Regions from separate parts of the Homo sapiens genome. Here regions 2 and 3 are each reported to be linked to region 1. The links are microRNA targets in miRTarBase. Many come from high-throughput screens and were not tested one by one. Region 1 holds a microRNA gene; each other region holds the end of a gene's coding sequence. Distances are from middle to middle.

What was found. The annotated mature microRNA hsa-miR-4747-5p reads AGGGAAGGAGGCUUGGUCUUAG and lies in region 1 at 1,037-1,058, opposite strand. An mRNA with a match to its seed (bases 2 to 7 or 8) in the 3' UTR can be bound and repressed. Matches are read on the target gene's strand: a 7mer-m8 pairs with bases 2 to 8, a 7mer-A1 pairs with bases 2 to 7 and ends in A, and an 8mer does both.
Region 2: miRTarBase lists FXYD1 as a target of hsa-miR-4747-5p. Seed matches in the 3' UTR shown: 7mer-m8 at 625-631.
Region 3: miRTarBase lists CACNB1 as a target of hsa-miR-4747-5p. Seed matches in the 3' UTR shown: 7mer-m8 at 2,386-2,392.

Annotation. Positions count from the first base shown.
Region 1 is chr19:4,929,745-4,933,744 of GRCh38, reverse strand. MIR4747 (microRNA 4747) reads right to left here and starts at 1,058; the gene lies at 1,005-1,058. It overlaps UHRF1 (ubiquitin like with PHD and ring finger domains 1), which reads right to left. Exons shown (of 17, transcript NM_001048201.3): 4 at 2,869-3,029; 5 at 789-1,004. RefSeq lists an enhancer at 2,665-3,164.
Region 2 is chr19:35,142,356-35,146,355 of GRCh38, forward strand. FXYD1 (FXYD domain containing ion transport regulator 1) reads left to right here. Exons shown (of 8, transcript NM_021902.4): 6 at 117-166; 7 at 365-416; 8 at 562-754. The coding sequence ends at 387. FXYD7 (FXYD domain containing ion transport regulator 7) reads left to right here and starts at 900. Exons shown (of 6, transcript NM_022006.2): 1 at 900-1,009. The coding sequence starts at 979. RefSeq lists enhancers at 561-1,121, 1,122-1,683.
Region 3 is chr17:39,171,521-39,175,520 of GRCh38, forward strand. It overlaps CACNB1 (calcium voltage-gated channel auxiliary subunit beta 1), which reads right to left. Exons shown (of 14, transcript NM_000723.5): 14 at 1,933-4,000. The coding sequence ends at 3,673. CACNB1-AS1 (CACNB1 antisense RNA 1) reads left to right here and starts at 3,109. Exons shown (of 4, transcript XR_934743.3): 1 at 3,109-3,197. RefSeq lists an enhancer at 3,888-4,000.

The DNA.
Region 1 (4,000 bases):
CTGTGGACTGCAGTTTGCCAACTCCTAAGCGGTGTGGTTTGGCGTGTATGTTTATGAACAGAATGTCCCTGGAAAGTTGGTAACAGTGATGTCGCCAAAAAGGGGAACTGGGTGACCAGGCAGAGGAGGGAGAACCTTCATGTGTGGTCTTGGGTGCTTTCTATTTTGACCCTGTGAATGGGACCTATTCACCAAATTTGAAACAAACAAGAGAGAAAAAGAAAGCTTGAGGCCAGGCACGGTGGCTCACTGCCTGCAATCCCAGCACTTTGGGAGGCCGAGGCAGGCAGATCACGAGGTCAGGAGATCGAGACCATCCTGGTTAACGGTGAAACCCCGTCTCTACTAAAAATACAAAAAAATTAGCCAGGTGTGGTGGTAGACGCCTGTAGTCCCAGCTACTCGGGAGGCTGAGGCAGGAGAATGGCATGAACCCAGGAGGCAGAGCTTGCAGTGAACCGAGATCGAACCACTGCACTCCAGCCTGGGCAACAGAGCGATAAAAAAAACACCATGAGAAAAAGGAAGTTTGACAACTCTGCCTGTCAGGGCCTGGGGGTCAGAGACAGTTCCCTGGGCAGAGGCACTCAGGGGCACAAGGTGGTCGGTCTTAGAAAGATGCTCAGCAGTGAGCAGGAACAGACCCCAGAGGGGAGGCAGGAAGGCCAGGCCGGAGGCTAAGGGCCTCGCACACACAGCGCTGGCTGGACGGCTTCAAAGCCAGTCCGGGGGCCCCGGGAGGGGAGGAAAGGAGAGAGGAAGGGCTCGCCCCAGGACGCGAGGCTCACCCCAGCACCACGTTGGCGTAGAGTTCCCGCGCCGTCCTGGTCTCGCGCTTCCTGGAGATCTCCGCGTCGTACCAGAAGCCCCGCTCCTTGGGGTTGTCGGGGTTGTAGTTGAGCATGACCACCTGGCCCACCTCCAGGTCCTGCCACTTGATGATGGTGCGGGCGCGCGCTCGGACGTCCCTGGAGTTCATCTGGACCACGCCGTTCTCCGGGTAGCTGGGAGGAAAGCCCGGGCCTTAGACCCCGTGCTAAGACCAAGCCTCCTTCCCTCAATGGGAAACGAGCCGAGGTGGGACGGCCCCTCCCGACAGTGTGCAGAGGCCCCTCCCAACAGGCTTATATGCTGGTGTTGAGAACACACAGGTATATTAAGGCACATTCCAGGTACAAAATTGTTATGGGTTGCCCGTGTCCCCTGCAAAAAGAGATGTTCAAAGGCTGATCCCCAGTACCCACGAATAGGATTGTTTTTGGAAACAGGGTCTTTGTAGATAGAACCTTTGCAGATGAAATCATATTAAGATGAGATCACACTGCAGTAGGGTGGGCCCCAATCCAACAGGACTGGTGTCTTTAGAACAAGAGGAGAGGCCGGGCAAGGTGGCCCACGCCTGTAATCCCAGCACTTTGGGAGGCCGAAGCGGGAAGATCACCTGAGGTCAGGAGTTCAAGACCAGCCTGACCAACACGGTGAAACCCTGCCTCTACTAAAAATACAAAAATTAGCCAGGCATGGCCGGGCACGGTGGCTCATGCCTGTAATCCCAGCACTTTGGGAGGCTGAGGCAGGCAGATCATCTGAGGTCGGAAGTTGGAGACCAGCCAACATGGAGAAACCCCATCTCTACTAAAAATACAAAATTAGCCAGGCGTGGTGGCGCATGCCTGTAATCCCAGCTACTCGGGAGGCTGAGGCAGAATTGCTTGAACCCGGGAGGCAGAGGTTGCGGTGAGCCGAGATCGCGCCATTGACGCCAGCCTGGGCAACAAGAGTGAAACTCTGTCTCAAAAACAAAACAAAAACAAAAATTAGCTGGGCGCAGTGGTGCACGCCTGTAGTCCCAGCCACTTGGGAGGCTGAGGCAGGAGAATCGTTTGAACCCGGGAGATGGAGGGTGCAATGAGCCAAGATCACACCATTGCACTCCAGCCTGGGGGACAGAGTGAAACTGTCTCAAAAAAATAAAATAAGCTGGGCACAGTGGCTCACACCTGTAATCCCAACACTCTGGGAGGCTGAGGCGGGCGGAACACGAGGTCAGAAGTTTGAGACCAGCCTCACCTACATAGTGAAACCCCATCTCTTCTGAAAATACAAAAATTAGCCAGGCGTGGTGGCCACACACCTGTAATCCCAGCTACTTGGGAGGCTGAGGCAGGAGAATCGCTTGAACCTGGGAGGCGGAGGTTGCAGTGAGCTGAGACCACGCCATTGCACTCTAGCCTGAGTGACAGAGTAAGACTCTGTCTCGAAAAAATAAAATAAAAATAAAATAAAATAAAAATACAAACATTAGCTGGGTGTGGTGGCGGGCACCTGTAGTCCCAGCTACTCAGGAGGCTGAGGCAGGAGAATCGCTTGAATCCAGGAGGCAGAGGTTGCAGTGAGCAAGTCAACCAATGTCCGTGTTTAAGCCACACCGTCTGTGAAATCTCACGATGGCAGCACGGACAGACGCAGCCACCATCTGTGTCCACTGGTGTGTGGACCCCGAACTTGGCAGGTAGGAAGTGCCCAGTAAACACTTGTGCAAAGACTGGAGACTGACGTTAGGGGTGGGGATGAGGGAGAGATGACAAACCCGGAAGATGGAATAAAACAGAAAAACTGATGGGGTGGCAGTTTCAGCCACTGATCGAGCAGAACCCTCCGCGGAGACACAGGAGGGGGCAGCCGGCTTCGGGTCCCCAGGCTAGTCCCCAAGTGGGCAGCCTCGTATGCTGTTAGGAATTCGAGGATGGGGCCCCAGATCCTGATCACCATCTCGAGACAGTGCCAAGCTCTGGCCTGAACACCCGCAGCCAAGGATGCGCGTCACAGAGCCTGAATACCCAGGCCCGCCCACCTGCCATGACTCACTCGTCGTATTTCACGTGGTAAATGACGTCCTCCTCCAGCGCCGGCCTGGACGTGGAGCTGCAGGGCTCGTCCCGGGAGGGGGCCTTCCGCGTCACCCTGACCACCTGCGCCTCAAACCACGCCCCCATGTTCGTGTCCCGAGCATCGACGTACTCATTGACCTGTGAGGAATGAGGGAAGTCTGGCATCCCAACGGGGTGAGGAAAACTGACGGGAGACCACCTTGGTTCTCGGACACTGGGATGCTCTGGAACCAGGGCGCAAACTCGAATGCCCACAGCGAGGTTTCTCCTCCCTGGCTGGGAACCGCTGACCATGAGAAACCAGCCCCGGCAGGGGTGACGGGGATGCGGGGCCAGGGGGCATGGACTGTCTTAACAAAGGCCCCTGCGGCTCTGCTTCAGCCACAGCTGCTGGGAGGCCCTGAGAGACCAGAGCTGCCCATTTGTCAAGAGAAGCTGGAAATCCAGGCAGGGCGTCGTGGCTCACGCCTGGAATACCAGCACTTTGGGAGGCCGAGGCAGGTGGATCGCTTGAGCCCCGGAATTCAAGACTAGCCTGGGCAACATGGTAAGACGCTGTGTCTACTAAAAAATAAAACAGACTGGGTGCAGTGGCTCACACCTATAATTCCAGCACTTTGGGAGGCTGCGGCGGGAAGATCACTTGAGGCCAGGAGTTCAAGACTAGCCTGGCCAACATGGCGAAATCCCGTCTCTACAAAAAATACAAAAATTAGCCAGGTGTGGTGGCACATGCCTGTAATCCCAGCTACTCAGGAGGCTGAGGCACGAGAATTGCTTGAACCCAGGAGTTGGAGGTTGCAATGAGCCGAGATGGCACCACTGTACTCCAGCCTGGGCGACAGAATGAGACCATGTATTAAAAAAGTAATAAAATAAAATAAAATTAGCTGGGCGTGGTGGCACATGCCTATAACATCAGCTACTCAGGAGGCTGAGGTGGGAGGATCACTTGAGCCCAGGAGTTCGAGGCTACAGTGAGCTGTGATCACACGGCTGCACCCCAGGCTGGGCAACAAAGTGAGACCCTGCCAAAAAAAAAATAAAAAAATAAAAAAGCTGGAAACCCAGATCTTTCTGTGACATTTCCTGATCTTACATGGTAGCAG
Region 2 (4,000 bases), 30 Mb from region 1:
TCCATATCTGGGCCTAGTTACACCAATCTGGGAAAGGAGGCTTGTACTGGGGGGTTCCTAGAAGGGCAGCCTCTCCCCCTTTCCATCCCGAAATCCCTCTGCCTCTGTCTTCCCAGGACTGGGGAACCCGATGAAGAGGAGGGAACTTTCCGCAGCTCCATCCGCCGTGAGTCTGGGGAGACTGCGGGTATTCTGGGGAGAGGGCTGGTTCCAAGGACCGCTTTTCCCGGCCCTCCCTGGCTGCGTAGAGGGAAGGGCTGGATCTGAAAGCGGAGGGCGGGGAGTTGCCCCGCCGCGGGCCCCACCTGCCCAGGAGCTGGGGATGCCTCTCCAGAATGACCCCCGATCTCCGTGTTCCCCCCAGGTCTGTCCACCCGCAGGCGGTAGAAACACCTGGAGCGATGGAATCCGGCCAGGTGCTGCAGCTCTGACACGGCGGTGGGAGGGAAGGAGGGAGGAAGGAAAGGCGGGAGAGGGAGGGGGCCAAGTGCCAGAGTTGAAGGGCGGCGAGGGGTGGGGCTGGACGTCCCCCCTCGCCTCTCACCCTTTTCACCCTCACAGGACTCCCCTGGCACCTGACATCTCCCACGCTCCACCTGCGCGCCCACCGCCCCCTCCGCCGCCCCTTCCCCAGCCCTGCCCCCGCAGACTCCCCCTGCCGCCAAGACTTCCAATAAAACGTGCGTTCCTCTCGACAGCACTTTGTCGGTCTCGGTCCCTCAGCGCGAAACGCCAGCGCCACTGGGCCCCAGCAGGGGGCGCCCCACCCTAGAGGAAGGGGCGGGGACGACGGTGGTGGGCGGGGGCGGGGGCGGGGGTGGCCTGCACGGGGGCGGGCTCCCCGGGCCCCCATTGGCTGCAGGCCCCCCCACGCCAGGGCTCCCCCCAGCTCCCCCCCACATCGGTCCGTCCTGCTTCCAGCTGCTGCAGCGCGCCTTCGCCGCCAAAGCATCCAGCAGCCCCCTGCTCCGGCCCAGCATGGCGACCCCGACCCAGACCCCCACAAAGGGTGAGCGTCGTTTGGGGAGGGGGTTGCAGGGGGGCTCCGGGATCTGAGAGCCTAGGAGAGAGGGTGTCGGGAGATTCAAGCAATGGTAAGGCAAGGGAGTTGGGGGAGGGAGGTCCGCTCCTCCTGTGGGCGGAAGCCCCTGTAATGCGCCCCCCCGATCGCCCCTCCGGGTCTCTGGGACACCCCCTCCCCGGCAGGCGTCCTGTGCCAGACCTGCGGTTGGAGAGTGGCAGTCCCGGGAGAAGGGATGCTCGGACAGGTCGCTATGGCAACCGGGTGGCTGGTCCCGCACCGTGGTGGTAGCAGACGGGGAAGAGATGAGCTTGCAGGGTGGGAGCGGGTGGGTCTGCGACCAGAGACGTTCTGGAAGATTTCAGGGTCCCTGGGGTGGGCAAGGGAAGGGGAGGAGGTTCATGTCCCTCTTCTTTCCAGTGCTGTCTCCTAGGGTGTCTGTTTCCTGAAACCCTTGACAGCCAGGTTCAGAGGAAAGGAGTGAGAGCTGAAGGAAGAGACAGAGAGAAGGGATATAGCAAGAGACAGACAGGGAGAACCTGGAAGAGACAGAGACCAAGAGAGGCAGGAGATCCAGAGTCACAGATACAAAGACCCAGGAAGACAAATAGATGGACTCAGAGAGATTCCCAGTGGAGGGGAGAGGCTGAGAGCAGTAGACAGAGATGCAGAGAGAGAGAGAAAAAAAAATGAGAGCCTGGGAGATAGTGGGATTGAGACCGCTATGGAGAGAGAAGCAGAGAGACGGAGGGAGAGAGACGGACCCATGGGGAGAGAGGGGAGTAGAAAGAGAAGAAGGGAGCCATGTGGGGTGGGGCCCAAACCACTGCAGTGAGACCCTATGTGTGGGAATGGGGCGATGGGACCCTCCTTCCAGCCCACAGCAGGGGTGTTTTCCAATCCCAGAGGTGCTGTTGGGTATACACCTAGCTGCCCCTACTGCCCCCATCCAGCCACACACTGATTTCCATTCCACACCAATTAACCCAGTTATGCACCCACTTAAACACCCACTTCTACCGTCGCCCCCTAATAGCCCCCACTGCTAATCCTGCTTCTGCAGATGAGCAAGGCACAGACTGCTTCAAGAGGGAGCCAGTGCCCAGCAAGGGTCTCCAGCACTGAGGGCAGGGGACCAGGGGTGCTGAGAAGCCCCTGGCAGTGAAGGGAACCCGAATTCCACTTGGATGGCTCCCTCCCTTCCGCGCTTCCCAGCAGGCGGGGGCTGCTGCACTGAGCCATATCTGCAGAATCCGAAGCAGGGCGGGGGGTGGGGGGGGCTGCAGAGGCTGGAAGCTACCCTAGGGAGGGGGGCAGGGCTGAGGCAGCAGGCCTGGCGGGAGCCCAGGGCTTCTTTTTGCAGAGGTGGTGGTTAGCAGGATCGATGGCAGCAGACGGGCAGAGGTGGGAGGACAGACTCCTCAACCCAACCTCCTCTGCCTCCCCCTTTCCCAGTCACAGCATGACAGGGGACCGCAGGTCTCGGGAAACCCCGGGGGAGGAAAAGCATGTTGTGCATTGCAAGCTGCTTAAGGAAACTAATTAATGAATTGTTGGGGAGCGAGGGGGGAAGAGGGGAGAGTCTCCCTCCACCCTGCCAGAGAACAGGAGGGAGAGTTAGGAGTGAACAGAAGAGGGATGCATGAGCACAGCTGGGTCCGGGTCCCTATCCCTGAAATGGACCCTTAGCTTGGCCAGAAGCCAGTCCTGCAGGGGCAACGGCAGGAGGTGCAAAAGGAGGGGAGAGGGTCAAGATTGAAACCTGCATCTCACACAGGACCTCACAGGGGACCCCACCCAGCCTGGGGTGGCGGGACCTATCACCTCTCTTCACCTCCCAAGATGCCCCAGTTGCCATAGCAACCACCTCCTTCCTGATATCTCTTTGGCAGCTGGCCAGGAGTAGTGCACATTCCTTTGCCTGACTCCTGGCCCCACCCTTAGCCCAGCCACGCCTGAGGGCCCAGGTTGCCGGGGCAGCAGGGACCAGAGGAGGATCTTCCGCATGGAGGAGGATCTTCCACATGGAACACCAGATTCTGGGACAGGGGCTCACCCAGTGGGCTCCCGATAACTTTGGGGAAGGACGGGTGTGTGGAAAACAGACAAGTGAGACAATCCACCTTTTACAGCCTCCTGCAGCCTAGGACTGCCTCATAATCATTCCTTCATTCATTCATCCCAGAAAACTTGAAGAGCCTTTCATAAATGTCAGGATGAACAGCAGTGATGAGTCAAACAAATTTACTCTCTGGTGGGGAAACTTACACAGAGCACAAGGGACCCTGAAGCAGCGTCTCACCATCTTGGCGCTTTTGAGTACTACCGTCACAATTTTTGCTTTATTCAAATATTCCTCACACTGCTATTTATTTAATTTTTTTCCTTAAAAGGATTAGCTTTTTTATTTTTATTTTTTGAGACAAGGTCTCACTCTGTCGCCTAGGCTGGAGTGCAATGGCACGATCACAGCTCACTGCAGCCTCAACATCCTGGGCTCAATCTATCCTCCTGCCTCAGCCTCCCAAGTAGCTGGGACTACAAGGCACTTCTGCTACACCCAGCTAATTTTTGTATTTTTCATAGAGACTGCTTTTGCTATGTTTCCCAGCCTGGTCTCAAACTTCTGGGCTCAAGCAATTCACCCACTTTGGCTTCCCAAAGTGCTTAGGATGACAGGCGTGGGCCACCATGCCCAACCCAGGATTAGCTTTTGAAAACAACGAGCTTTATTTTATAGCACCATCACAACTGGAAAATTAATCTTCTTTTTTTTTTTGAGACAGAGTCTCGCTCTGTCATCCAGGCTGGAGTGCAGTGGCACGATCTTGGCTTACTGCAACCTCTGCCTCCCGGGTTCAAGCAATTCTTCTGCCTCAGCCTCCCAAGTAGCTGGGACTAGCAGCGGCACACCACCACACCCAGCTAATTTTTGTATTGTTAGTACAGATGGGGTTTCACCATATTGGCCAGGCTGGT
Region 3 (4,000 bases), not on the chromosome of region 1:
ATCCACCCACCTCGGCCTCCCAAAGTGCTGGGATTACAGGCGTGAGCCACCGTGCCCGGCCTCACCTTCCTTTCTCTTATCAGCCGCCTCCACTTGCTCTCCAAGAGCTCAAGATGCTAACATTTATTTATTAATTTAATTTCTTTATTGAGACACGGTCTCGCTCTGTCATCCAGGCTGGAGTGCAGTGGTGTGATCATAGCTCACTGCAGCCTTGACTTCCTGGGCTCAAGAGATCCACCATACCTCAGCCTCCCTATCACAGCCTCCCGAATAGCTGGGACTACACACGCAGCTAATTTTTAAAATTTTTTGTAAAAAGGTGGGTCTCACTATGTTGCATAAACTAGTCTAAAACTCCTGGGCTCAAGCATTCCTGTCCCCTTAGCCTCCCAAAGTGCTGGGATTACAGGCATAAGCCACCAAGCCCGGCCATCTAACTGCTAGATCTCTCTGGCCTCTTTGCCTCCCTTCCAGTCCCACTGCTGTGGCGTAAGGCAAACCCTCCTTTCGCACCTGGATTATCACAGCTGTTTCTAAGCTAGGCCTTCCAATCTATGCGCCAAACTGCAAACAAAGCAATCTTGCTAATTGCTTACAATCCTTCCATTTCTGCATACGAGCTTCAGGACAAAGCCCAAACTCCTTAACATGACTCAAGGCCCACTGTGACCTGCTCCTGCCAATTCACCTTGAGAGCACACTTTGGTGGTGAGGTGCCAAGAATATGTCATGCATGTCCCCTGCTTTCTCTGCCTTGAACACTTTCCCCATTTGTCTGCTAACCATGCTTCCAGATTCTACTCAAGCCTCACCTCTGCCAGGAAGCCTCAGCTGACCTCCCCAGGTTATGGGACTAACCCCTCTTTCAGGTTCCCACAGTACCCAATGCTCCCACAGTACCCAGTGCTCCCACAGCAGAGAGCACATTATGCTGTGCTGAAATAATCTATGGCCCCTACGTAGACTTGTGCCTGGTACATAGGAGGTGCTCAATAAACATTTGTTCAAGGAAGAAACACAGGAATGAATGATTCTGTAGGAAGGCAGTGGGAAATGCACTATGCTGGGAGGCAGAGACTAGGCTCTCATCAACTTTGCCATTGGCTCCCCCAGGGAACTGGGGTCAGCCACTTGACCTCTGGGCCTGCCCAGTTTCCCTTTCCTTTGATCCACTAACTCCTCATCTGTAGGGTCTTGGGGGATGTCTTTTGCCCTACACACACACACACACACACACACACACACACACACACACACTCACTCATGTTGGGCCTCAGCACTCAGGTAGCGGACTCAGGAATTTTAGTCCTCCACGGCGACCAGCACAAAAAACAAGAACCAGGGTGGGCACAGTGGTTCATGCCTGTAATCCCAGCACTTTGGGAGGCCAAGGTGGGTGGATCACCTGAGATCAGGAGCCTGGCCAACATGGTGAAACCCTGTCTCAACTAAAAATACAAAAATTGGCCAGGCGTGGTGGCAGGTGCCTGTAGTCCCAGCTACTCGGGAGGCTGAGGCAGGAGAATCACTTGAACCTGGGAGGCGGAGGTTGCAGTGAACCGAGATCGCGCCACTGCACTCTTCAGCCTGGGCGACAAGAGCAAAACTCCATCTCAAAAAAAAAAAAAGAAAAAGAACCAGGAGGGAGGGGAAATAGTTTGAGGGTACTGTGTGAGGCAGGACACAGGTGGTTGCAGTAACTGTCAGAAGTCCACATCCTGCCAGCTGGGGATGGGAGGAATGGGTACACTCACCTGCTGACTTTCAGTCTGGGACTGGCAGAATCCCTGATTTTCTCTGACCTGCCCCCACAAGTAGTCTGCCTCCCTGTCCCCAAAGCTGGTTAGCAGGAACGAGGGGGGCATTAGTGGAGCCAGAAGCTCAGCCCCTCCCTCTCCTGAGGTGTTGGGGCACAGTGATGCCACAAGAGCAGAAAAACAGTCATGTGTATTTAAGACATTGCACCAGTGGGTCTGGATCTCACCCACTGAGCAACATTGAGCTTCCCATTGCCTTTGGCTCTACTTGTGGAGAGACAGGTAAGTGAAGGGGCTCAGGGCCAGTGTGGAGCTGGGACTGCCCAAGCAGCTCCTGGCTTGGGCACAATACATCAGAGGGCCAAAATCAAAGGATCATCTTTTCTTTTGAGTCAATGACTCAGGGCACAACATCTTCAGGCACCCACCCTTTCAACTCCCCGTGCATATCAGCAGCTCCCAGGTGCCTACGCTGACGACTATGTGGCGAGGACAAAGAAGCAGGCTTGGGAGGCAGCCACAAAGGACAGGACAGTGGTTTTATATATGGCAAAATACTTCTCCTAGGGGAGTACAGACAAATATAGACAGACAGATGGGGGCACAGGACACCAGACAGGGAGGGGGGAAGGGAGGGCAGTGGTGTCTTCTAATCAGTAAGTGGAAGCTGCACCCCACCCCCAGGTGGAGGGTGGGACATTGGCACAGGAGGTGGCGAGACAGGCATGAGGTGCCCATCCCTGAGGCGGGCAGCCGGGCAGGCCCCAGTCCTTGTTGGCACACTCGGCTCTCTCTGGCCCAGCTGGGATGCTGGGGAGGGGCAGGGTTGCTGGGCTACAGGGATGCCAAGGCAAAGGGATGCCCCAGGGGAGAGGGGGTACCAAGGCCTCTCCTGGGGGAAGTGAACATGGGTAACAAACAGAATCACGAGAGGCAAATACAGAGCAGCAACAGCAGCAGCCAAGCCCCCCAGAGGAGATCCGAGGTCCCAAGGCAACCCCTGGGCACCATCCCACGGGTCCTCTCCCCTGGGGCCTCAGGGTGAGGGTGAAGGAGCAGTTTTTTGGTTTAAAATGAGGCGGACCAGAGTGTTCCATGGGCTCCACACCCAGGTGGCACAGGGATGGGGGGCTCAGATGCAGAGGGGCCCCCTCTACTAATGGCAGCAGGCAAGGGATGTTGGAGGCCAAGCTCATTCCTGGGGTAGGCAAAGGCTGAGGCATGGAGGTGGGGGGTGGGGAGCAGCGTCTCGGCCGCTCACTCCTCAGGGTTCTGGGCCCTGGACGTTGCCATGGCCACGGAGGGTAGAGGGTGCTGTATGCCTGCCAGCTTCCACCCAGAACCCTCCCCAAGACAAGCTCCCCATGGGGTGTCCATGCTATGGCTTTCACCGACCAGACGATGCTGCCAGGAAGCTGGGAGGAAGGGGCAGGCAGGGTGAGGGACCTTGGATCTGGGGTCTGGGGAAGAGAGCCCCCATGGGAAAGAATCTGTGGCCTCCCTTTCCAGGAAAAGCGCCCAGCCCTTCCCCAGTACTGCAGCTTGGGAGAAGGAGAGCCATCCCACTTAGGACCGTCACTTAGGGCCCCGAGTAGAAAGAGTTAAGGAAGTGCACCTTTTCTCTAGGAGGGTGAGGGAGGAGAGCCCCTTAAGATGGGAGAAAGGGGACACTTCAGAAAGGTGGGTATCCCCCATCCATCCACAACAGGCAGGTAAAAACCGACAGCTGGGGCTTAAGGGCCTCCCGGGAGCTGGGATGGTAACACCAAAGAAACCCCAAGCTTTGAGCAAAGGCATCTGAAAGGAGGGAGACAGCGCCCCCTGGAGGCGAATACATGTCAGGTGTGAGCCCCTCGCTCCCTCCCCTCCCCTGGGCTCAGAGCCCTTCCTCCCGCCGTGTGGCCCCTGCCTCTCAGCGAATGTAGACGCCTCGTCCCCAGCCCTCCAGCTCATTCTTGTTGCGCCCCAAAACTGGACCCCCACCCTCAGCGCAGTAGCGGGCCTTATTCCGGCCCCGGTTCCGGTTGTCGGTCAGCTCTTCCTCATAGTCTTCTTCCTCGTCCTCCCAGGATCCCTGTCGGGCTGGGGGCGTGCCGCCCCCTGCAGGGTCTCCAAGCCCTGGCCCCTCTGAGGGGTCAGTCTCCATGTCCACACATGAGTCTCCCAGCTCCGTGTAGGCAGAGTTTCGGCTGCCGGGGGTGTCGGCATCAAAAGTGTCTTGGCGGGACAGTGCCCGTAGC